2 separate regions of the Homo sapiens genome follow, and region 1 is linked to region 2. The links come from fine-mapping of genetic effects on plasma protein levels. A gene starts in region 2. The other region holds a variant in brackets. All regions are shown on one strand. Distances are from middle to middle.

Region 1 (11,533 bases), 23 kb before region 2:
TGCCTGGCTAATTTTTTGTATTTTTAGTAGAGACGAGTTTTCACCATGTTGGTCAGGCTGGTCTCGAACTCCTGACCTCAGATGATCCACCCGCCTCAGCCTCCCAAAGTGCTGGGATTACAGGCGTGAGCCACAGTGCCCGGCCCAGGTACCTTTCTCTGTGGCCTCTTTCTTTTTCTGATCATTTTCCTTCACGCGTCTCAGGAAGCTGTCTCGGCTCTTAGAGTGCTTCATGTGCTCAATACGCACATTAGTTCTCTTGGCAGGAATCTTGCCCTTAGCTTGTTTGTCTACAGCAATGCCAACAGCATGCTGGGGAACATCGTAGACTCTTCCAGCTTTGCCATGGTGACACTTGTGCGGCTTCCTTTTTGAACAGTTCCCATTCCCTTGATGTCTACAGTATCACCTTTCTTATACATTCGCATGTACGTGGCCAAAGGAAAAATTCCATGTTTTCCACAAGGCCTGGAGAACATACATCGGGTGCCTCTCCTCTTTCCCTTTGTGTTCGTCATTTTGGCGAATTACTGGAAAACGGCGGTTCCGGCTGAAAGGGCTTTGTTATCTTTTATTTTTGTATTTAAGTAAGCTTTATTGTTTGTATCTTATACTTCAAAAAAAGCTCAGATAAATATTTAATTTGTATGAGTCACCTGGGGATTGTACAATTGCAGACTCTGATCTAGTAGGTCTGAGGAAGGCATTCTTTTTACTGATTGATTGATTGATTGATTGATTGATTGAGACAGGGTCTCACTCTGCCACCCAGGCTGGAGTGCAGTGGCACCATCTCAGCTCACTGCAGCCTCCACTTCCCAGGCTCAAGTGATCCTCCCATTTCAGCCTCCCAAGTAGCTGGGACTACAGGTACACACCACCATGCTGGCTAATTTTTTGTAGAGATGAGATCTCACTGTGTTTCCCAGGCTGGTCTCGAACTCCTGGACTTAACCAACCTGCCTGCCTTGGTCTAACAAGGTGCTGAGATTACAGGTGTGAGCCACTGCACCCAGCTGAGGCAGGCATTCTGACTTTCTAAAACCTTTCCCGGCAGTACCCATGCTGCTAGTATCTTAACCATTCTTACAGTATCAAGATCCTAACACACTGCTTTCTAAAATGTAGTCAAACAACATGAAAATCCTTTATTTTAATCCATGCTTCAGTTCCTTTTTTCCTTTATACTTTGTATTTATTTATTAAATTGTGGTGAAACATACATAACATAAAACTCACGATTTTCACCATTTTTAGGTCTACACTTCAGTGGCATTCAGCACACTCACATTGTCGTGCAACCATCATCACCATCCATCTTCAGAATTCCTTTCACCTTGCAAAACTGGAGCTCTGCACCCATCATACAATAAATCCCCATTGTCCCCAACCCTTGGCAACCCCCATTCTACTTTCCATCTCTATGAATTGATCTTTATTTATTTATTTAGAGACGGAGTCTCATTCTATCACCCAGGCTGGAGTGCAGTGGCGGGATCTTGGCTCACTACAGCCTCCGCCTCCTGGGTTCAAGCGATTCTCCTGTCTCAGCCTCCCAAGTAGCTGGGATTACAGGCGTGGGCCACCATACCTGGCTAATTTTTGTATTTTAGTAGAGACAGGGTTTCACCATGTTGGCCAGGCTGTTCTCGAACTCCTGATCTCAAGTGATCTGCCCGCCTTGGCCTCCCAAAGTGCTGGGATTACAGGCGTGAGCCACTGCGCCTGGCCAAATTGATCTTTATTATTTAACATTCCACACACCACTACACTGGCCCCCTGCATTGGTGATATAAAGCTGATTGGATCTGATAAGAAATAGCACATCCTCTAGAAGCTTTAATAAAACATATGTCAGCTAGAAGATGGGGGATAAATCCCCCCAAATTTGAGACCTGTGATTTCTAAGCTTCTTGGGGGTTATTTGGGCTGGAGAATTTTGAAATATTCACTCTAAGGTGAAGGCAAGTTGCTACACCTCCCACTACCTACTATGAAGAAAGAGGCAAATGCTTGGAAGGGCTTTTGGGGGTCTCACTATGTTGCCCAGGTTGATCTCAAACTTCTGGCCTCAACCAATCCTTGTGCCTAAGCCTCCCAAAGTGTTGGGATTACAGGTGTCAGCCACCAGGCTGGCCCAACACATTTTAGTGTGTTACCATGACCCATCTCCCGAGTGCCCCATAAGGCAGCCAGTTTCCATAAGAGGCTGAGCAAGAGGAGGTTCTGCAGGCCTGGGCTGCTCTATGCGTACAAGCCTCTGTGCCGCCCAGCCCTGTGAGCCACTGCTGCTCAACATATCCATGACAAGCGCCAATGGGAAAATTGCAGTCCGGACCTCTAGAATTGTGGAGCAATTCTGTGCTCTCTTCTGTAGATAACTAGTTTCCTTCTGAGAAACTGCTTCTCGCTTTCTACTGGGATTCGAGTCTGAACGCCCACCCCTGTGTCATTAGGTGATCATTCAGCCTAGTTCCCATTAGGGGCCGGGCATGGTTGGACCCACCCAGCCACCAGGCGTGGGATCTGCAGCGGTGGCCTCTCAGTCCATGTACGCAGTAGAGGCAAGCTGGGGTGGGTCCAGACGGCATGGGAACTTCACAGGGAAGGCAGGTGGCCCAGACTCCCTCAGCACCTACCCCTGCTGCCCTGTCTCCCTTCCCCATCCATGCCTCCAGCCTCCCCGGGTACTCCTCACACCCAGTTGGCTGAGGAAGAAACTCGAGCCTGGTGACAGAGGGCTCGGCATGCTATGCCAGTTCCCACAAAAGTAGACATGAGTACTACAGCTCCACCGGCCGAGCCCCGGTAGCGAAGGAACCCTCCCTAGGCGCACAGTTTGAGCCATTCACTCGGCTGTCCACTACATGCAGACAGAGAGATGCCCAGAGGTACAAATCCGTGCCCACTTAGAAACAGCTGCTAACAGTTTGGTTGGATGTTCGGGGACCTGGAAGAAAAGGATTGGAAGTTTGGTAACAAGGATGTCTGAGGAAGAAGTATGCGGTCAGCCTCTCGAGATGGACACAGACTACAGGAACATTTGCGCATCATATAAATGCTCAGCAAAGGGTGTCCCCTTCAGAAGAGGCTGAATCAGGTAAAAGAAGGAAGTTCTGTGAAGTCATCAGCCAGACCCTGTGTGTTTCCTAGGAATGCTGCAACAAAGTGCCGCAAGCTGCGGGTGCTTAGGCCCTAAAAACGTGCCATCTCCCAGTTCTGGAAGTTAGAAGTCTGGGGTCAAGGTGTCAGCAGAATTGCCTCCTTCTGAGGAAGTGAGGGAGACTCCATCCCAGCCCGTCTCCCAGCTGTGGGAGTTTTCTGTCAATCTCTGGCCTTTCTTGGCTTGTAGAAGTGTTACTGGAAAGGGGCCCCAATGCAGACCCCAAGAGAGCGTTCTCAGATCTCACACGAGACAGAATTAGAGGCAATTCCACAGTGCAAAGTGAAAGCAAGTTTGTTTTATTCTATGTATTTTATCTTTTGAGATGGGGTCTCACTCTGTCACCCAGGCTGGAGTGCAGTGGCGTGATCTTGGCTCAATGCAACCTCCACCTCCCAGGCTCAGGTGATCCTCCCACCTCCGCTGAAACTACAGGTGCACACCACCATGCTTGGCTAATTTTTTAAATTTTTCACAGAGACAGGGTTTCACCATGTTGCCCAGGCTGGTCTCAAACTCCTGGACTCACGCGATCTGCCCGCCTCGACCTTCCAAAGTGCTGGGACTACAGGTGTGAGCCACCACACCTAGCTGCAGGTTTATTAAGAGAGTAAAGGAATGAAAGAATAGCTACTCCTGGATGGGCATGGTGGCTCATGCCTGTAATCCCAGCATGTTGGGAGGCTAAGGCAGGAGGACTGCTTGAGCCCAGGAGTTTGAGACTACCCTGGACAACATAGTAAGACCCTGTCTCTATAAAATATATATATATATTTTGGCCAGGCCCAGTGGCTCACGCCTGTTTTATATTTATATATATATATATAAAACATAAAATATAAAATATATATTTTATATTTATATATATAAAACATAAAATATAAAATATATATATTTTATATTTATATATATAAAACATAAAATATAAAATATATATTATATATATATATATTTTTGACAAGGACCAGTGGCTCACGCCTGTAATCCCAACACTTTGGGAAACCAAGGCAGACAGATCACCTGAGGTCAGGAGTTCAAGACCAGCCTGGTCAACATGGTGAAACCCCATCTCTACTAAAAATACAAAAATTAGCCGGGTGTGGTGGTGTGTGCCTGTAATCCCAGCTACTCGGGAGGCGGAGGCACAAGAATTGCTTGAACCTGGGAGGCAAAGGTTGCAGTGAGTCAGGATTGTGCCACTGCACTCAAGCCTGAGCAACAGAGTGAGACTCTGTCTTAAAATATATATATATATAATTTGTATCCTGTAAATATATATATACAAATATGTGGCTGACTGCCACGGTTACTACTTGAGATCATCCCCACAACAATTACTACTTTTACTACTTGAGACCGTCATTACAAGACTGAACGAAGAGACAAACGTAGAAATGAAAACTGAAGACAAAAGAAACTGTTTGAAAGGAACTGTCCAGGGAAGGATGAAGAGAGCTCCCTGCTTCTAGTGGACAAAGGCAGCCCCTGAGCTTCCATAGCCCTTCATATTTATTGGGTAGCAAGAGCAGGGAGGAGGAGGTAATGACTGGTCGGCTGCTAATTGATAACAGGTTCATGTTATTACTAACAGGCTTCAGATGTACCTAATCTCAAGAAACACTGCGTTTGGGGAGTGACTGCCCTCAGCATCCCTTCTGGGTGGCAGACACAGTTTGTCAGTTTGCCAACATTCCGCATTTATGAGAAACAGTTTGCTGTTTACTCATAGAGCCTCCAGTGGTATACTGAACTGATCACCACCCTCATTCTTTCGGCCTGTAACACAAATATATATACAAAAGATACATACATATATATATTATCCTGTAAAATAGAGCCCCCAAAATATATACATATATTTTTTAAGAAAAAAAAAAAAAAGAATGACTATAGACAGAGAAGGGCATTCCTTAAAGTAAAAGGAGGACCAAGCCCAGCCTAAGTACAATGCCTGTTTAAGATACGAAAATCATAGGAGATGTGCTTTACTACAAGGGTTTGTGATAGAGGATTAATCTTTGTAATTACCATCTTTCACAAGAATCGATATTATCTTTAAAACAAAACGTCTTAAACTAGGAATGCTTGCGTTCTCAAGATATTGGGACATCAGGACATTCCAGGTCTGTTAGTAAACATTATTAATCTGCTCCCTCAACCGTAAACTCTTGCGACTAACAATGCCTAAGTTCCTGGGAATGTAGCCCAGCAGGCCCCAGCCTCATTTTTCCCAGCCCCTATTCAAGATGGAGTCACTCTGGTTCGAATGCCTCTGACAGGAGCAGCACCCTGATCTGTCTCCATCCTCACACTGCATTCTCCCTGTGTCTGTCTCCAAATTTCCCCTTTTTAGGACACCAGTCGTATTGGATTAGAGCCACCCAATGACCTCATTCTAACTTGATTACCTCTGTGAACACTCTAGCTCCAAGTAGGGCCACATTGGGAGTTACGATTTTAAGATGAATTTGGGGGGACACAATTCCCTAGCCACACCAGCGCTTTTTCAATGAACCCACAAACAATGTATTTATGGTGACCAAGATGGAGGCTACGCATGGGCCCAGCAACACGGGCTCATCTCTCCAGGCTGGTCTGACTAATCTCACTGCTGGCAGCCCCCTCTCACAACCCCAGAGAGCAGCACTGAGTGCCTGATGGCACCTTCCCCCACAGAGAGCAGCCAGCATCTGGTAGCAGGTGGGTCCTGGTCTCTTCCATCATGGAGGGGACACAGACTCACCTTCCTGGAAGGGACACACTTTGCCTCCCTTACCCAGAGTGTTTCTGCAGCACTGCTGCTTGTAGCCTCACGTGATGCCTTTCACCATCATGGCTTCCATGCAGGGCTGCTTCTGACCAAGGAACCCATTTCACCACCAAGGAAATGCCACAGTGGCTCGTGGCCGTGGAATTCACTGATCTTACTGCTTATTCTATCACCCAGAAGGAGCTAGCCTCAGCAAAAGACTGAGTGGCAATACCCAGGAAAGATGGACTCTATTTTACAGGATTCCATATACGCTTTGAATCAGGGGCCACCACATGGTTCTACTTCCCTTATAGCCAAAATGCATGGCTCCAGAAACC[A/C]AGCTGTCACAGGTAGTGACTAACTAGGACCAGTGGCGCATGCAATAAAGGAATTTACCAAGAGAGTTGTAGGTAAAGACAGGCAGGCTTATTAGAGAACACAGGAAAATACATTGCAAGAAAGCAATGGGCAGATCAGCAAAAGGGGAGCTGACTACAAGGAGACAAAGACTTGTGGGGGATTTTATAGGATGGTGCTTGTGCTGGAGAGGGCCACGCGCAGTGCTGATAATGCCCAGGTTGCAGCGAGCTAACTGACACTTGTCTATCGGCTGAGGATCTGGCGATAAGATGGGCACAGGAAGATTGTGAGTTATTTGCTTAGGAGGGCTCTGTGTGTCCTGGGCCATGTAGAAAGGCAGGCTTATAGCTTATCTGTTTTTTGTTTGTTTGTTTTGCTTTCCCTGCTCCCCCCAGCCTGACTCCTCTTCCCCGATTAGAACTCCATGCAACCAGTTGATATGAGGGGGATCCACTTACTATTACCCCCAATAACAACCAGCTGGCAGGATTTTTGCTTCCTGTCGCAGCAACTTTGAGCTCTGCTAATGTGAAGGTCTTAGTCCCGGAGAGGAACATCCTTCAACCAGGAGACACAGCAATGGTTTCATTAAATTGAAAGATGATGCCGCCACCTGGCCATCTGGGGCTCATTCTGTCATGACACCAAAAGACCTAAAAAATGATTGCTCTCTTGACTGCAGTGATAGGTTCTGATTCTCCTGGGAGACCAGGCAGCTGCTACTATGTCTGGAAATCAGGGCATTCATTCTCTGCGGCACTTCTGACTATTTCCATGGCCAATAGAAAAGGTTCATGGAAAACTACCCCAGCCATAGAAAGGCAGGAAAATTGAGGACTCAGAACCTTCTGAAATGAAAGTTTTAGTTGTTTCATCAAGTAAAGATCACCAACTAGCTGAGGTCCCGGCTGAGGGAGGGGAAAATCCAGGATGAGTGATGGGAGAAGGAACCATGGACTTCAAGCCTCGGCTCCCAACTGTCACGGAAGCAAGGAGTGTAGTAGTTTTGCTTAGTTTCCTTTGCTTGTTTTCACGTGTTTGTTTCCACATGCCAACCATTTTCCTGTTTTCTCTCGCTGGCATCTGTATTGTACACACAATTTTTTGGAGGTTAGTGTTACCATTCAGTCTTCAGGTAACAAGATATTCAGTGGACTGTGGTTGAATTTGTGGTGTAATTAACAGAGCCAACAGTGGCTACAGTAACCATTGGCACCTTGTCCTCACTGTCTCCTCATTTTGGAGACAGCGTGAGTGCATCTTCACTTGTGGGAAGGATACATGTATTGCATTTACTGGAATTTTTAGAAAAGGTTAAACGTGTGTAAAAGGGTGCATATGGAAAGCAACTGCCTGCTATCCATCTACTGCCTCTGACCCAAGCCCATCTTTCACTGCCCTACTTGGGGATTCTGGAACTTTTCCCTCTCTCCTGCTGGCACGGTGCTGTGCACTGTCAGTAGAGGGCGCTGGAGAGACAAACAAGGAGGGAGGGGGGTTTCTTTTCACTTGTTTATTGGCTGCTCACCTGCACAGCCTCCCAGGACGGCTTCCCCCGCCTTGCATAAGTAGCTTTGCAGCAAGTTCTGAGGCACAGCACCTGGCTGTGCATGGCTTACCTGGCATCTCAGGAGGCTGCGGGGTCTCACTGCAGGGATGGTGGGGGCATGCATGGGGGGCATGCATGGGGGGCTGAGGGGCTGCAAGGCAGCACAGGGTCAGAGGATGGGAGTTCTGGGGGCGACCAGGGACTGCTGGGTATAGCAGCAGTCAGTATGGGTATCGCCCATCGGTATGACTTCTCCCTGGCAAGCCCCTCCCACGGCTCAGCTATCATCCTCCATAGTGATCGCCTGACAAAACCAGAGTCTTGGTTAAACTCAGCCCTGTGATTACAGTCTGCACCTCAGCGCTGAACTTGGCTTCACGCCAAGTCACAGGTTGCTGATGAACCCACTTCAAAGAGGCGCTGGACATGGCTGGTTGAGCCTACCCCTGAGACACTAAAGTATTTTCCTCCTCTCTCCTCCCATCTCCAGCAACACCACTTTCATTTTCTCAGTTAAATGTTCAGTTATAAAATGCTAATAATATAACACATTCACATGCCTCATAATGAAAATTTACAAGCTATACGGCCAAATACCTCCTTCCTAACTTCTGTCCCCATCCAACCCTGTTCACCTCTCTCTCTCTCTCTCTCTCTCTCTCTCAGACACACACACACACACCACAAACTCTGCTCTGCACTGTGCTTTTTTCCACTTAACGTTATGTGTCCTGAATGTCAACATGAGAACAGAGAGAACTTCCTCATTCTTTTTCACCGCCACATAGTACTCCATTGTTTGGGTGCACTGCAGTGATTTCCCTGGTGTCTGCCGATGGGCATTTAGGGAGTTTCCAGTATGTTGCTACTGTAACTGAAGTGACTAGTCTGGCACTCAAGTTGCTTTGCATAGCTGGTAGAGCATGGATAAGGTACATTCCTGGAAGGAGAATGGCTGCCTCACAGGTTCCTGCATTTGTCAGCCTGACCCGGAAGCCCAAATCACCCTCCACAGGGGCTGTGCAAAATGATGCCCCCAAAGCAGTGAGCGAGAGAGAGGGCCTGGCGGCCGGCAGCCTCGCACACAAAGTGTTGTCACTCACCGGGGTATTGGTCACTCTAATGAACCACATGCCCATTCTGCAGACATCTCAAACTTTAAAAAAAAAAAAGATTAATAGAAGATTTATTTAGCAAAAATACATATAGCCATTATTGCAAGACTTAAATGAGATGTTAAATGTTCAACCCAATTTTCTTTCCTGGATAAGTTTTTCTTTCATATCCCTGTCAGTTTTGAAAACATAATACCAGAAGAAGGGGGGCCCAATTCCACAGAGAGCTCCCAAGAGTGAGTTTCTGGGAGTGAGTCTGAAGTTGAGATAAACCTTTGCTGATCTTGCTTACGTTCAATGCATCTGGGCAGCGTCTTTGATGAGCCCTGGCGGTTAGGCTGGTGGCACTGAAGCAGGCCTCCAGGGTCTCCTGTTTAAGCAGGATTTTAAGGCCAACCCTGCGGCTTGCGCCTGCTGGGTTTCTGGAGATGTGTCATATTCGGCTGGGTTGAGGGTCCAGGGCAGAGTGGCCAGGCATGAGAGAAAATACTTTGGGTCAACACCTGTGAAAAGAAGGAAAAAATAAAAATAAAAAAAACACCAGAAGAATACTTTGGGAACAACATCGTGGTGACACAGGGCACAACTGCGAGTGCGGAGGGACCTCTCCCCCTGAACTTGACCAAGCGCTTCCTCAGCCCTTTCTCCCCTCCCAGGCCCTCCCTGTCCCTGGAAGCAGCCTGGTTCCCTCCCGGTCTCTTAGAAGCCCCTGGGCTGCTCTTTCCCTCAGCCCACCGAGAGCTCGCTCCATCTCACTGCACGAGGGGGCCCTCGCTGCCGCCCTCATCTCTCCCCTGGGGACCCCAGCGCCCCCGAAGGGCAGAGGGGTCTTTCCAAGCCATAAATCCCATGAGTTGAAACTCGCGTCTCCAGCCCCTTCCAGCCCCGCTCCCCAGCTGGAAGGAGCCCACTTACCGGCCCCCTCCTTCCTCCTGCGGAGTCTCCTGTCCAGGATCCCTTTTCCCCAGTCCTGCCGTCTTTCTTTGCCTGAAACCTGGAATTCCTCCCCGTTCCCGCCCGCCGGCCTCCGCAACCTCCTCCCTCCCCCGCAGCGCCCAGCCCGGGTCTGCTCCAGGCACCTCCTCAAGACCGGGCCTCCAGCGACTGTCCCTTTGAGCCGCCCTTTCACCCGCAGGCACCCCCGGCCCGTCCCCGCGCCTGCACTCAAGCTGCTTGTTTGCTTGCTCCTGGCTCCTGCAGGGAGCGTCAGCCCCCGGGCTGCTTCCCACTGCTGGAGGCCGGGGGCGCCCGGTGTTCCGCGGGGGCTGCGGCCTCCCCGCTCCACCCCTGCTCACAGGAGCCTGGGCAGCCCGGGGCCCGTCCTTGCACAAAGGCACCAGGCCTGGCCCAGGCCCCGCTCCGCCCGCCCTGTCCCCGCGCTGGGGGACTCGCTCCCCTCCGCCGGGCAGATCCTCCTCTCCGGGGGATTTTCCTGGAGAAGTTACTGGTGCAGATCCAACAGCTGGCGGGACAGTGACCCGGAAGGCCCCCGCCCCGAAAAGCAGGAACAGCAGGAACCTCCAAGGCGCCGCCCGCACCCTCTTCCTCCTCGCCTGGGGCCTCGCGCCCGGAGCCCGCCCCTCTGCCAGGGGTGGACGCAGCCCGGGGAGGGGGGTCCACCTGGCCCCAGGTCCCGCCGCGCTCCGACGACTCGGCCCGCCCTGGCCGCCGCGAGGCTGGGGGTCACTTTGGGACCTAAGTCCGCCCCCGTGGGAGAATGTGTGCCAGGGCCCACTGACAGCTTCCATCGGGGCTCAGGCGCCATCTCTCCCCACGTTTGCCCAGGGTCAGGGGGCCATGCAGGGGAGAGTCGCGCTGCCCCCACTTCCCCCTGACCCTGTGCTCCGAGGAGAGGAACGGGAACTCGCCCGCCCAAGGCCCACGCTCCCCACGTGGCTCAACCAGGCCAGGACCTCGCAGCCACATGGACCGGCGGGTCCAGGAGCCGGGCAGAGGGTCTCCGTGCCAAGCCGCACTGCCCCTGGCCCTCGTCTCCCTCCTTTCTCTCACTGCACGGTGGCCTCATGCCATCCGCTTTGGCCCCAAGAATGGAACTCAGGAGAAAGGGCCTGCCCTCCCCCACCCCCAGCTCCGGGCTGTCCCAGGCCCTGCTGAAGCCCACACCCCTCTTCAGGTGCACACGGCTCCCCTTGGGGCCCTCCCCGGCCTCTGTGCAACGTTCATCAAGGTACCCTTCTTCCCTTCCAGGGACTCTGCTCCTTCCCAAATTCCAGGCCAGATTGGCTGCGGAGAGGCCCACCCTTCCGTGGCAGCTGAGCCCGTCTCTGAATACAAACCAGACCTCCTGTGTCCACAGCTGTAGCTTTCAGGTCAATGCCAGCATGGTAAGAGTCAGTTCCCACTCTGTGTCCCGTGCATGCGGTTGAAATGGCTGCCCCGTGTCCACCCCACCCTCTTCCTCAGTAAAGGACGGTGGAGGAAGCCCCAAAGGGTCACAGTCCCCTTTTTACAGATGAGGAAACTGAGGCACGGAAGGGTGAAGTGACTGTCCATGCCCTACAGGCAGACACTTCCAAAGCTCCTGCTCACAGTGAGGGGATGGTGGGCCATCTCCTGCCTGGACCACATGAGGT
Region 2 (11,188 bases):
CTCTTCCTTTCTCTCATCTGGAAGGGTGTTATTTCGGCTTAAACTGTCCCTATAGTCAATAGCTTGGGCTTGGAACTCAGGCCACCCGGTCCCAGAGCCCAGCTTTCCCCTGCCTCCACATCCCCAGCTATCCTGCAAGCTACATCCAGAGAGGCAAGACCCGAGCTTCCCCAGAGTCCCTGCCCAGCACCTGACCATTGTCAGAGCAAGGCCAGGTCCACTGGAGAAGAGCATGGCTGATCTGAAAGGGGGAAGCAGGCAGGGGCTGGGCCTCCCCAAGAACTGGGGTGACCTGTAACCTTGATGCCACCTGTCTGCCCCACCCCAAGACTAAATGCATGCAGCCTTGTCTCATGTATCATGGTAACTTCAAGTGACCCCTGAAACAGCCCTGCAAGGCAGGCAGGATGATCCACCATCCAGAAGGAGAAACTGAGGCTGAGTAGGAGGTGTTTGCCCCAAGCACAGCAGCCATGGAGGCTCAGACTGGGCCCATCCGACTCTTCCCATGGCCCCGCTGCCTCCACCAGCCCCACTACCCTGTCCCCATCCTGGAGGGGCTTGGCCAGAGCCACCTGAGGGACAGGAAGCCTGGGCTCCTCCCACCCCCAGCCCCTGCCATGCTCACCCAGTGCCCTGGGCAGAGTCCCACACTCCTGGATGGCACTGGCCTCCCTAGTGCCATTTGGGTTGAGCATTCCACTCCAGGACCAAGAGGGGCATGCTCCAGGGAGCCCCAGGGGCAAGGCCATGGGGCACCTCTGCTCCCCACCCGGTGCCCCAACTTCGCTTCCCAGCCCCTCTCAGGTGCATGCCTAGCACCCGCGGGAGCTGGTCTGTCTGGCAGGGCCACTCAGCCCCACCCTGGGTGCCCAGGCCCCACCTCTGCCATTCTCCTGGGGTGGGGGAGGGTGGCCCTTACCAGCAATGCTCCCTGCCAGCCTCACCTCAGCCTTCCCTGTCCCACCCCACATGTACTAGGCTCTGTCCCACCTCCAGGCACAGCTCCCGCAGGACCCCCACAGCATCACCGCCTTCTCCCCTCTGTGACACGAAACCCAGAGCGCCTGAAGGTCCTGCTGCAGCCCCCTGGGCCTCGCCCCAGGTCTCCGCTCTCCGAGGCAGCTGGTGCCATGGAAAGAGAAACGCTTTCGGTGTGGGCTCAGCACACTTCTCACTAGTGTGTGGACTGCACACCTCCTTCCTTCACAAGCCGCCGTTTCCCCGTCTTTGAAAAGGGGATGAGGACCCCCACCCCACAGTGCTGCTGAGGGGATGTGGCCAAACCGCACAGCCAAGTGCTGGGCGCCTAGCTGGGCCTCAGTGGGGGTGAGTCTCCTGTGTCCTGAGTCTGTCCTGCAGGCAGCAGCGAGCCGGTGCAGCCAGAAAGGAAGAAGGGGAGGAGGGGCGTTCCTTTGAGCCTTGCCGCTGGTTGGGCCCACTGAGGCAGGAAGGGGCCTGCTGGGAGGCTCGTAGAGGGGTCACAGCCAGTGGCTCAACAGCGCCCCCCAGCCTCCTGCTGCCCGGCCTCTCCTCAGGTCCACTGACCTGGCTCGCCTTCCCCGTCAGGGCTGATGTCCACACACCTCCCGGGAGCTCGCTGGGCCCGGCTCCTTCAGTCCTGGGCAGGATGTGGAAGGCGCACCCATCCCCCGATGAGGACACCCGGGCACGGGCGAGGAAGTGACTCGGCCTGTGTCGCCCGGCCGGGGAGTCACGCCGGACCTGGGGCCTTTCTGCTGTAATGGAGGGGAGACCCCTGCGCCTGCCCCAGCCCCGCCCTCCCTGCCTCTGGCAGGCCCGGGCCCTCAGCCAGCCTTGGCCCCTCTGCGCCCGGACGCGCGGACGCTGGGCGCGCCAGGGCCTCAGTTTCCCTGGAAGCGTCCAGCCCCCTCCTGTCCCCGCCGCGGCGACAGGCTCTTTCCTCGGGGAATCCGGCCTGGCCTCGGGGTAGGGGCGGGCGAGAAGCCGCGCGGAGCGGCGGGGAATGGACGTGTGGAAGCGGAGGTCACTTACCGTGTCCCGGCCTGGCCGCCACTGTCCTGGCCCGGGTTCCGCAAGGCCTGAAATAGTCGCAGAGTCAGCCCCGCCCCGCCCGCCCCTCCTTCCCCGCCCCGCCGCAACCGCGGAAAACCCGCGGGCGGAGGCCAAGGCCCAGCGCGGCCCGGCTGTGTCCCTGCGTCCCAGGGGCTGGGCGCGCCCGGCCTGCCCAGCGGGGGATGCGGGGCGCTGTCACTTCCTCCCAGCAGCCGGGCAGGGGCGGGGGGCTGGCCGCGCGTCGCATGGTATGTGGAGTTCGGGGGACGGCACGGGGACGACGGGGTTGTCAGGCGCGGAGCCATTGTCCGACGACGGCTCCTGATAGGCCGCCTGGATGGGGCGCGCTTGGCCGCGTTCCCGCGTCACACACCGGCTCCAGCTGCGGGAGAGCCCGTCCCACCCCAACTCCCCAGCCGCCCCTCTGAAGTGTTCCGGTGTCACCGTGGCCACAAGGAGGCAGGGGACGGGGGCTTCCTGAAGGAGGCCCCCTAAGGGGAAGGGGGCTACAAGGCTGGCCAGAGTGCTGGCCGCGCGGCTGTGCACAGGGCCTTGAGCCCCTCCGGTCGTCAAGCCTTGCTTGAAATGCGTAAATGCGGAAAGGTGAAGTGGCTGACCCGGCTCACACCACTTTAAGTAGCGGAGTGGGGTTCCTAGCCAGGCCTATGGGACTCCCACTGGAGCCTTTCCCCCTCTGGGGCTGGGGCTGGACCCACAGGCTGCCGGAGCAGGCAGAAGGGGAGGGGCCCAAGGCCCAGACTCCAGGGCCTCGTCTGGATCATCAACCCGGCTTTGCCCATTCAGCGCAGGCCTCCGTTTCCAGGCCTGTCTCCCCATCCACACCGTCTCTCAGGGTTTGTTTTGGGAGATGTGGGGGTGGGGCATGTGGGGAGGATGGAAAGGGGCTGTGAAGGGAACCCACTGGAGATTCACTTCCTTCCTTATTTCACACTCTAGGCTAGGAATTCCTGCCCTCTGGAAAGGACCCAGACATTTAGGAATTTCCCGCTGGGCAGGGGCTTCCCTCCTGCCTCACTGGGGCCTCTGCTCCTCCCCTCTTTTGTTTGGCCTCTTTCCCCGCCCCCTGATCACTCCGCCACCCCTTCTGCAGCCTAGTAACAGGTCTTCCAGGACCAGGGGGGCCAGCGGAGTGGGGGCGGCTGTGGGTTCAGGTGCCCTGGGAACTGAGAACTTCCTCTTCCAGAGTGCTGGCCAAGCGCCAGGTTTGCACTCGGATTGCCATCCATCATCCTGTCTCTGGGGAACCTGTGGGGGAGCGGATGCGGGAGGCCGCCAGGATGCAGGATGGGGCGTTAAGGCTGCCAACCCCACCCCTTCTCTCCTAGGACTCCAGGGATGACATTTTTCAGATGAGTCCACAGAGCCGCGGTGTCCCGGGGCTGGGAGGGTCCTTCCACCGGCACCGCGCAGATGGAGTTCATCCACACAGGGGCGATGAGGATACGGGCTGAGGGGCCCTGGCCGGTGGCTGCCTTCACGGCTGGCTGCTGTGGCCTCATTGTGCAATCCCCACAAGCCTCTCCTGCCAGACTCTGTTCCCCCACCCCACCCCCTCACCCCCCCTCCCATTCCCAAGCAGATCGGGAAATTGCTCGGGAAGTCTGCATCTGCCAGGAGGGCGTTGTCAGGCCTTAGGCCCCACTGTCCCCTCGAAGGCAGCCCCTGGTCTCCACGGGCTTTGCAGGGCTGAGGCGGGGCTGCCACCCTTGTCCCCCACTGACGGCAGTGGCCCGCCCAGAGCACCGGCTGGGGATTGGGAAACGAGGCTGCTGCCTTGGACTTGTGTCTGCACCAGTCACTTCCCCTCTCTAAGCTCAGGCATGAGGGTCAATGGTAACATACGTGAAGTCCTCAAGACAAGGAAAGTCTTCTGAAAATGGGGCAGCATGGAGGCCCAAGGGATGACAGCCAATGGGGCCCATAGGGCAGGAGCAGTCCTTACCCTCTTCTCGCAGATGCAGAAAGCAGTTCCCAAGAGGCCAGGCACTTCCAGAGGAGCCAAAGGCCAGCCTACGGCTCCTCCCCAGCAGGAAGCCAGCATCACATGCTGGGTGGCGATGTTTGTGACCAGTGGCCAGCGGCTGTCCCATTCCCCAGCTCCCCAGGGCACAGGCCAGGGGCAGTGAGCAGGGGGCTCTGCCTGGTGGGGAGGGCAGCAGACAGGAGCAGACTGGCAATGACCTCTCCATTTAGCCTAGAAGGCGAGTGTGCCAGCACCTGGCCAGGAGCCACGGTCAGCTCCTCGCACGCAACCCAGGGCCTCAGAGGCTACGACACATGGGATGTTCCCTCCCTTCTGTCTGCCAGAGCAATGACAGCTGACTGTTTAAAAATTATTATGGTACAATATACATAATGCAATTTATAATCTTTTAAGTGCACAGTTCAGTGGCATTAAGTATATTCACAGGGTCGTGCAACCAACAGCACCCTCCACCTGCAGAAATCGTCACCTGGCAAAACGGAAACTCTACCCACTATGCACTAACTCCTCTTTCCCTCTCCTCCGGGCCCTGGCAACCGCCATTCTACCTTTCGTCTCTGTGGTCTTGACTATTCTATGTACTGCAAATAAATAGAGTCACACAGCGTTTATCCTTTTGTGTCTGCATCTGCCAGGAGGGCGTTGTCAGGTTTATTTCACTCAGCATAATGCCTTCAAGATTCATTCATGTGGTAGCAGGTATCAGAATTCCCTTCCTTTTTGAGGCTGAATCATATTCCATTGTATGGATGGGCTACACTGTGCATTCATTCATCTCTCTGTGCACACTGGGATTGCTGCTACCTCTTGGCTGCTGTGTACAGTGCTGCTATAAAACATGGGTGTGTATACCAGGTGTGGTGGCTCATGCCTGTAATCCCAGCACTTTGGGAGGCCCAGGCGGGTGGATCGCTTGAGCTCTGGAACTCAAGATCAACCTGGGCAACATAGTGAGACCCTGTCTCCACCAAAAATACAAACAATTAGCCAGGTGTGATGGGGTGCACCTGTAGCCCCAGCTACTTGGGAGGCTGAGGTGGGAGAACCACCTGAGCCTGGCAGGTTAAGGCTGCAGTGAGCCATGATTGCACCACTGCACTCCAGCCTGGGCAACAGAGTAAGACCCTGTCTCACAACAAAAACAAACAAACAAAAGAACACGGGTATGCAAATATCTGTTCACGTTCCTGCTTTCAATTCTTTTGGGTAGACTGCTGATGTTTGTTGATCTCCACCGGTGCCAGGCGTTGTTCTAAGTGTTTTGTATACATTAGCCGATTTCATCGGACAGCCTAATGAAGTGGGCACTAACTCTCTTCTTTTCACAGATGAGGAAACTGAGGCACAGAGCGGTCCAGTCATGTGCCAGCCAGTGGTGAAGCTAGGAGCCCCTTCACTAAGCACAGTGTTATCTTGCTTCTCCTCCAACGTTGCTCAGCGTCTGAAATTCAGCTTGATGTATTTAAGTCAGACACAAGAAAGGACTTCTAGACCAAGGAGTTTAGATGCAGAAATGGGAGGTACTATCCTTCACTCCTTTTTCACCTTGAAAAAAATTTTTCCCAATCTTTTTCATTACCTCATTTAGTCCATTAATTAAACCTCCACCTGCGCCCTGTAGGGCAGCAGAAAAGGCCGATTCAGCACGGACCAGAGAATAACACAGGGAGGCACATTACTGGCCCTCTCTCTGCATTCTTGAAGGCACCTAGAGGAAAGCTCTCTAGAAGAGGGGCAGTTGGGGCTGGGCATGGTGGCTCACCCCTGTAATCCCAGCATTTTGGGAGGCCAAGGCGGGCGGATCACCTGAGGTCGGGAGTTCGAGGCCAGCCTGACCAACATGGAGAAATCCCGTCTCTACTAAAAATACAAAATACAAAATACTAAAAATACAAAATTAGCCAGGTGTGGTGGTGCATGCCTGTAATCTCAGCTACTCGGGAGCCTGAGGCAGGAGAATCACTTGAACCTGGGAGGCAGAGGTTGCGGTAAGCTGAGATCACGCCATTGCACTCCAGCCTGGGCAACAAGAGTGAAACTCCATCTCAAAAAAAAAAAAAAAAAAAAAAAAGGAAGAAGAGGGCAGTCGAAGGCAGAAGGGAGAGCAACCTGGAGCAGGGCCCAGGGTGGTGGGTGATCACGAGGGGCAGAGGGCCTATAGGTGGCTGGGCCTGGCCAGAGGCGTGGCTGCAGCTGCTAGCCTTGGTCACAAGAGTGGTGCTGACCTCAGGGTGGGTCACCTAGCCCCTCCCCCAGCAGCCCGGGCCCACTTCCCTCTGCATGATGACTTGCACTTCCCACTGCCCTAACCCTGGTTCCCAGGACCCCAACACTCACCCTGCTTCTCCCTTTCACTTCTCAGGCTGTCACCAGCCCTGAGACTCTTCCTGGGGATGCCCTACTGTCTGCATGGGGTGGGGCCATTGTGTTCCCTGTTGACAGATGAGGAAACTGAGTCTCAGAGAAGCAGGCACAGAGGTTGAGGCCTTAAGCCTGAGGTCCCTGCTGCCACCCAGCCTTCCCCAAGAGGAGCAGTGACTTGCTCAGCATCACCTACAGCTCCATGAGACCCTGGCTGAAGTCTGCTGACCTCCTCCGGGACTGTGGGATGGCCAGGACAGCTGACCAGGAGCCACTTTCACGGCACATCCCCTCCTGCAAAGGAGGGAGCATGAGGACCCTCAGCAGCCCAGACATGTACCATCAGGCGGTGCCCCACCCCAGCCCCACGGGACACTGTCGATTTGTTGATAGCCCCCCTGCCCCTTTCCTCCTAGGAGGAAGCCAGGCCAAGGATTCCTTTTCGTATTTGGCAGATGGAGAAACCGAGGCCTGATGAGGTATGGCTTCTGCAGCTATTCCATGAGCCTGACCCACTGTCCTTGCTGGAGAAGGGCCATGGGAGAGAAAGCAGGGCCTATGGGGCAGCAGGACCCCAACCCCAGTGGCCTTCCAAATAGTGTGGTGTAGGAGGGCTTCCTGGAGGAGTGGGTCCTGGTGGAACTCATGGGCATAGGAAGTTCTCTATGCCAGCTGCAAGCGGCCACTCTCCTCCCCAAGTTCAGCTCTCCTAAAACTCTAGTCTTTCACCACAGCTCTCTGGTACTGATGCAAAATGCCTAAGTGCAGCTCCGGTCCCTTCTGCCTGGGGTTCCTGTAGAACATGGGCCCTTCTCGGAGCCGGCATAATTTCCAGGAAAACAGCTGCAGAGCTACGGCCTATGCAGGGTTCTGCCAATGACAGAGGCCAGTCACGTGGCAGGACCTCTCTTGGGAAGCCCAGTGCTGCTTCATGGGGCTGTTTGGAGAAGGAAGTCGGGGAGGAGAGGGGAGGGAAGGGGAAGGAAGAGGAGGGGAGGGGAGGGGAGGGAAGAGGAGGGGAGGGGAGGGGAGGGAAGAGGAGGGGAGGGGAGGTGTTACCGGGAGAGACTATATCCAAGTCATGAAGCACTGAAGTATGTTAGCAGGAGCAAATCCATCCAGGTCTGCAGCAACCTCAGTTCTTACCTCCTCAGAAAAGAGAATTCAACTGAGAAGTCTAAGGCAAAGTGAGAGACTGCAACAAGTTTGAAAGCAGGAGTGAAAGTTTATTTAAAAGCTTTAGAGAAAGAGCCTGGGCAACATGGCAAAACCCTGTCTCTACCAAATAATAAAAATAATAACACAAAAATTAGCCAGCGTGGTGGTGGGCACCTGTGGTCCCAACTACTCAGGAGGCTGAGGTGAGAGGATCACTTGAACCCGGGAAGTGGAGGTTGCAGTGAGCCCAGATCATGTGGCTGCACTCCAGCCTGGGCAACAGAGCAAGACCCTATCTCAAAAAAAAAAAAAAAAAAAAAAAAAAAGGCTGGGATCGTGGGATCGCTGGCTCACACCTGTAATCCCAGCACTTTTGGAGGCCAAGGCGGGCGGATCACCTGAGGTCAGGAGTTCGAAATCAGCCTGGCCAACATGGTGAAACCCTGTCTCTACTAAAAATAAAAAATGAGCCGGGTATGGTCCCAGCTACTTGGGAGGCTGAGGCAGGAGAATGGCTTGAACCCGGGAGGCAGAGGTTGCAGTGAGCCAAAATTGCGCCACTGCACTCCAGCCTGGGCGACAGAGTGAGACTGTCTCAAAAAAAAAAGAAAAAGAAAAAAGTGGCCGGGCGTGGCGGCTCACGCCTGTAATCCCAGCATTTTGGGAGGCCAAGGCAGGCGGATCACCTGAGGTCAGGAGTTCGAAATCAGCCTGGCCAACATGGTGAAACCCTGTCTCTACTAAATATACAAAATTAGCCAGGTGTGGTCCCAGCTACTTGTGAGGCTGAGGCAGGAGAATCGCTTGAACCCGGGAGGCGGAGGTTGCAGTGAGCCAAGATGGCACCACTGCACTCCAGCCTGGGTGACAGAGTAAGACTCTGTCTCAAAAAAAAAAGAAAAAAAAAAAAAGTTTTAGGGCAGGAATGAAAGGAAGGAAAGTACACCTGGAAGGCCAAGCGGGTGACTTGAGGGATTCTAGTGTGTGGTTTGACCTTTGACTTGGGGTTTTATACGTTGACATGCTTCCACTTCCGGCGGGGGGCCATTGCATTCTTTCTGAGGATTCTTCCCTTGGGCTGGGCTGTCCGCACGCGCCGCCATGGCCTGCCATGCCAGCACCTGGGAGGGGCCGCATGCGCGGTGTGTTTACTGAAGTGGTGCACATGCTCATGTGAGGCGCTCTTCCCTTACCCGTCGAGGGTTTCCCGAGGAAGGTCATACATGAGTTAAGCTCTGCCATTTTGCCTCTTAGTGCTTATGCTTGAGCCCACTCACCCGACTCCTGAGATCTTATCGGGAAGTTGCTGATCACTAGTACTAGGTGCTTCTATGTAAGAGAAACACCTATGTTGGGAAACTGCCTTTCCCTGGTGCTGGCTGCGACCAATTATTATTTTAGAGAGACAGTGTAACAACTGCCTATCACCTGATGGTTGCGTGACATTCCTAGGTGCTCTCCTGCCCTGCTCACGTCTGTCTACTGTAACAGAGGCTGCTCAAAAACCACGCAGGCCCTGTGACTGCCTCCAGCCCAGGTTCTGGGAGCCCCCTCCTTGCCGGACAGCCAGGAGCTCTGACTTCCAGACTTTGGAGAAGGAGGGCATCCCACTGTGGGCTGAGGCGTGGAGACCACCTGGGCCCTGGTACTCCACTGCTTAGAGCTGTGTCTTTCCATACATTGCTTGGGACAGTGACATTTCCTTGGGACCTCCTGGAGATGGCACTGGCACACTCAGAGGGTTGGCAGGGATGGCTTAAAGGAGGTAGTGCAGATAAATAACAACGAATGCCACAGGTAGGAGGATGCTCTTGGAGAGCCAGGCCCTCCTCCAGCCAACTCTTGCATTTTCTTGTGTAATCCTCCCCAGTTTACACAGGGAGATGGAACCCAGAGAGGTGGAGTGACTCACACAGGTCACACAGCTAGGAAGGCGCAGAGCTAGGATTCCAGCCCAGAGGTGTCTGAGTCCAGAAGCTGATTCGAAATGCCAGCCCTGAGTCCAGGGAAAGCAGGAACATCATACACCACCAGAGTAAAGCACATGGTGGGCGCCCCACAAACAGCAGAGCTTCTCATGATGAGGCAGGAGAATAGGAGGCAGGGAACCTAAGGCTGTTTCGTTCCTACTTCCTAGAACTATATTGAAAGGAAAACCCACACAAAAAAATTAACTGGGCGTGGTGGCGGGCACCTGTAATCCCAGCTGCTAGGGAGGCTGGAGTGCAATGGTGCTGTCTCGGTTCACTGCAACCTCCGCCTCCCGGGTTCAAGCAATTCTCCTGCCTCAGTTTCCTGAATAGCTGAGATTACAGGTGTCCACCACCATGCCCAGTTAATTTTTTTGTATTTTTAGTAGAGACGGTTTCACCATGTTGGCCAGGCTGGTCTTGAACTCCTGACCTCAAGTGATCTGCCTGCCTTGGCCTCCCAAACTGCTGGGATCACAGGTGTGAGCCACCGCGCCCGGCCTCACCCTAGCCTCTGACTGGTTGCTTTTTGCAACCAATCAGATGTTTGCACAGGAGTGTGACCTTTGTAACTTCACTTCAGCCTCTGGTTGGCTGCTTTCCGCAACCAATCAGGTTGATTGCAGGCCACCACTTCATTTACATGAGGTGAGCATGAAGTGGCCAACGGGAAACTTCTAGGGGATATTTGGACCCAAGAAGATTCTGTATCTGGGCTGTTGAGCTGCTGCTCGGGCCACTCCCACACTGTGGAGTGTACTTTCATTTTCAGTAAATCCCTGCTTTCGTTCTTTCGTTGCTTCATTCTTTCTTTGCTTTGCTGGGCATTTTGTCCAATTCTTTGTTCAAAACGCCAAGAACATGGACAACTTGCAGTCACGACCCTCTACTGGTGACTTTTGTTTTCCCCAAGATTCTAAGAGCCCATTATTTGAGGATTCTATCCGTCTAAGAGCCTTGAGTTCCTCATTTGATGTTTATAGGGATCAAGAACGACTGCCCAGGCCAGGCACAGTGGCTCACACCTGTAACCCCAGCACTTTGGGAGGTTGAGGCAGGAGGATCATTTGAAGTCAGGAGTTTGAGACCAGCCTGACCAACATGGTGAAACCCTGTCTCTACTAAAAATACAAAAAATTAGCTGGGCAAGGTGGTGGGTGCCTATAATCCCAGCTACTTGGGAGGCTGAGGCAGCAGAATCGCTCGAACCTGGGAGGTGGAGGTTGTGATGAGCTGAGATCACTCCACTGCACTGCAGCCTGGGTGACACAGTAAGACTTCATCTCAAAAAAAAAAAAAAAAAAGAAAAGAAAAAAAGAAACGACTGCCCTATCCTGTCAACCACCTCCAGCAAAAACAGGTTCCTCACCAATGCCCAGAATGTCACCATTCATATAAATCCCTTGGGCAAGAATCCCTTTTTAACAACTCAAGTGTCCCGCAAGGAACCTCGGTCACTTCTGGGAATGGGAGCAGGAAGACTAGAGATAAGAAGGGGACTTTTTACCCTATACCCTTTGCGTATCTTTTAAATTTTGACCTATGTGAACGTATTGCTACCCAACACATTATTAAGCATTTAACACATTTTTAAGGCTGCTAATAGATGGGTGGGCATATGTGCAGACAGAAGTGAGGGTGTCCCTGGAGAGGCCCA

Direction of the effects. Positions count from the first base shown, and alleles are read on the strand shown. Strength reflects both the effect of a copy and how common the allele is.
With allele A in place of C in region 1, the plasma level of the protein whose gene starts at base 2,039 in region 2 is higher (weak association).

Evidence for each region. PIP is the posterior inclusion probability: the model's chance that the variant is causal. Protein levels are from antibody-based Olink assays in UK Biobank. Linkage for the fine-mapping came from a reference panel and not from the study's own genotypes, which makes the PIPs less certain.
Region 1: its variant is fine-mapped to the plasma level of the TNFAIP2 protein (UK Biobank, PIP above 0.99).

The regions. Positions count from the first base shown.
Region 1 is chr14:103,137,582-103,149,114 of GRCh38, reverse strand. It overlaps the pseudogene NDUFB4P11 and the pseudogene RPL21P12. Among named protein-coding and RNA genes, the nearest start is that of TNFAIP2, 20 kb to the right of the region's middle. RefSeq lists enhancers at 8,669-8,718, 8,749-8,798. The variant A/C (reference allele first, on the strand shown) is at 6,254.
Region 2 is chr14:103,114,312-103,125,499 of GRCh38, reverse strand. It overlaps TNFAIP2 (TNF alpha induced protein 2), which reads right to left and starts at 2,039. Exons shown (of 12, transcript NM_006291.4): 1 at 1,549-2,039. LINC00677 (long intergenic non-protein coding RNA 677) reads left to right here and starts at 2,591. Exons shown (of 2, transcript NR_138038.1): 1 at 2,591-2,891; 2 at 4,469-4,651. RefSeq lists silencers at 1,748-1,797, 2,098-2,377 and enhancers at 2,042-2,575, 2,576-3,108.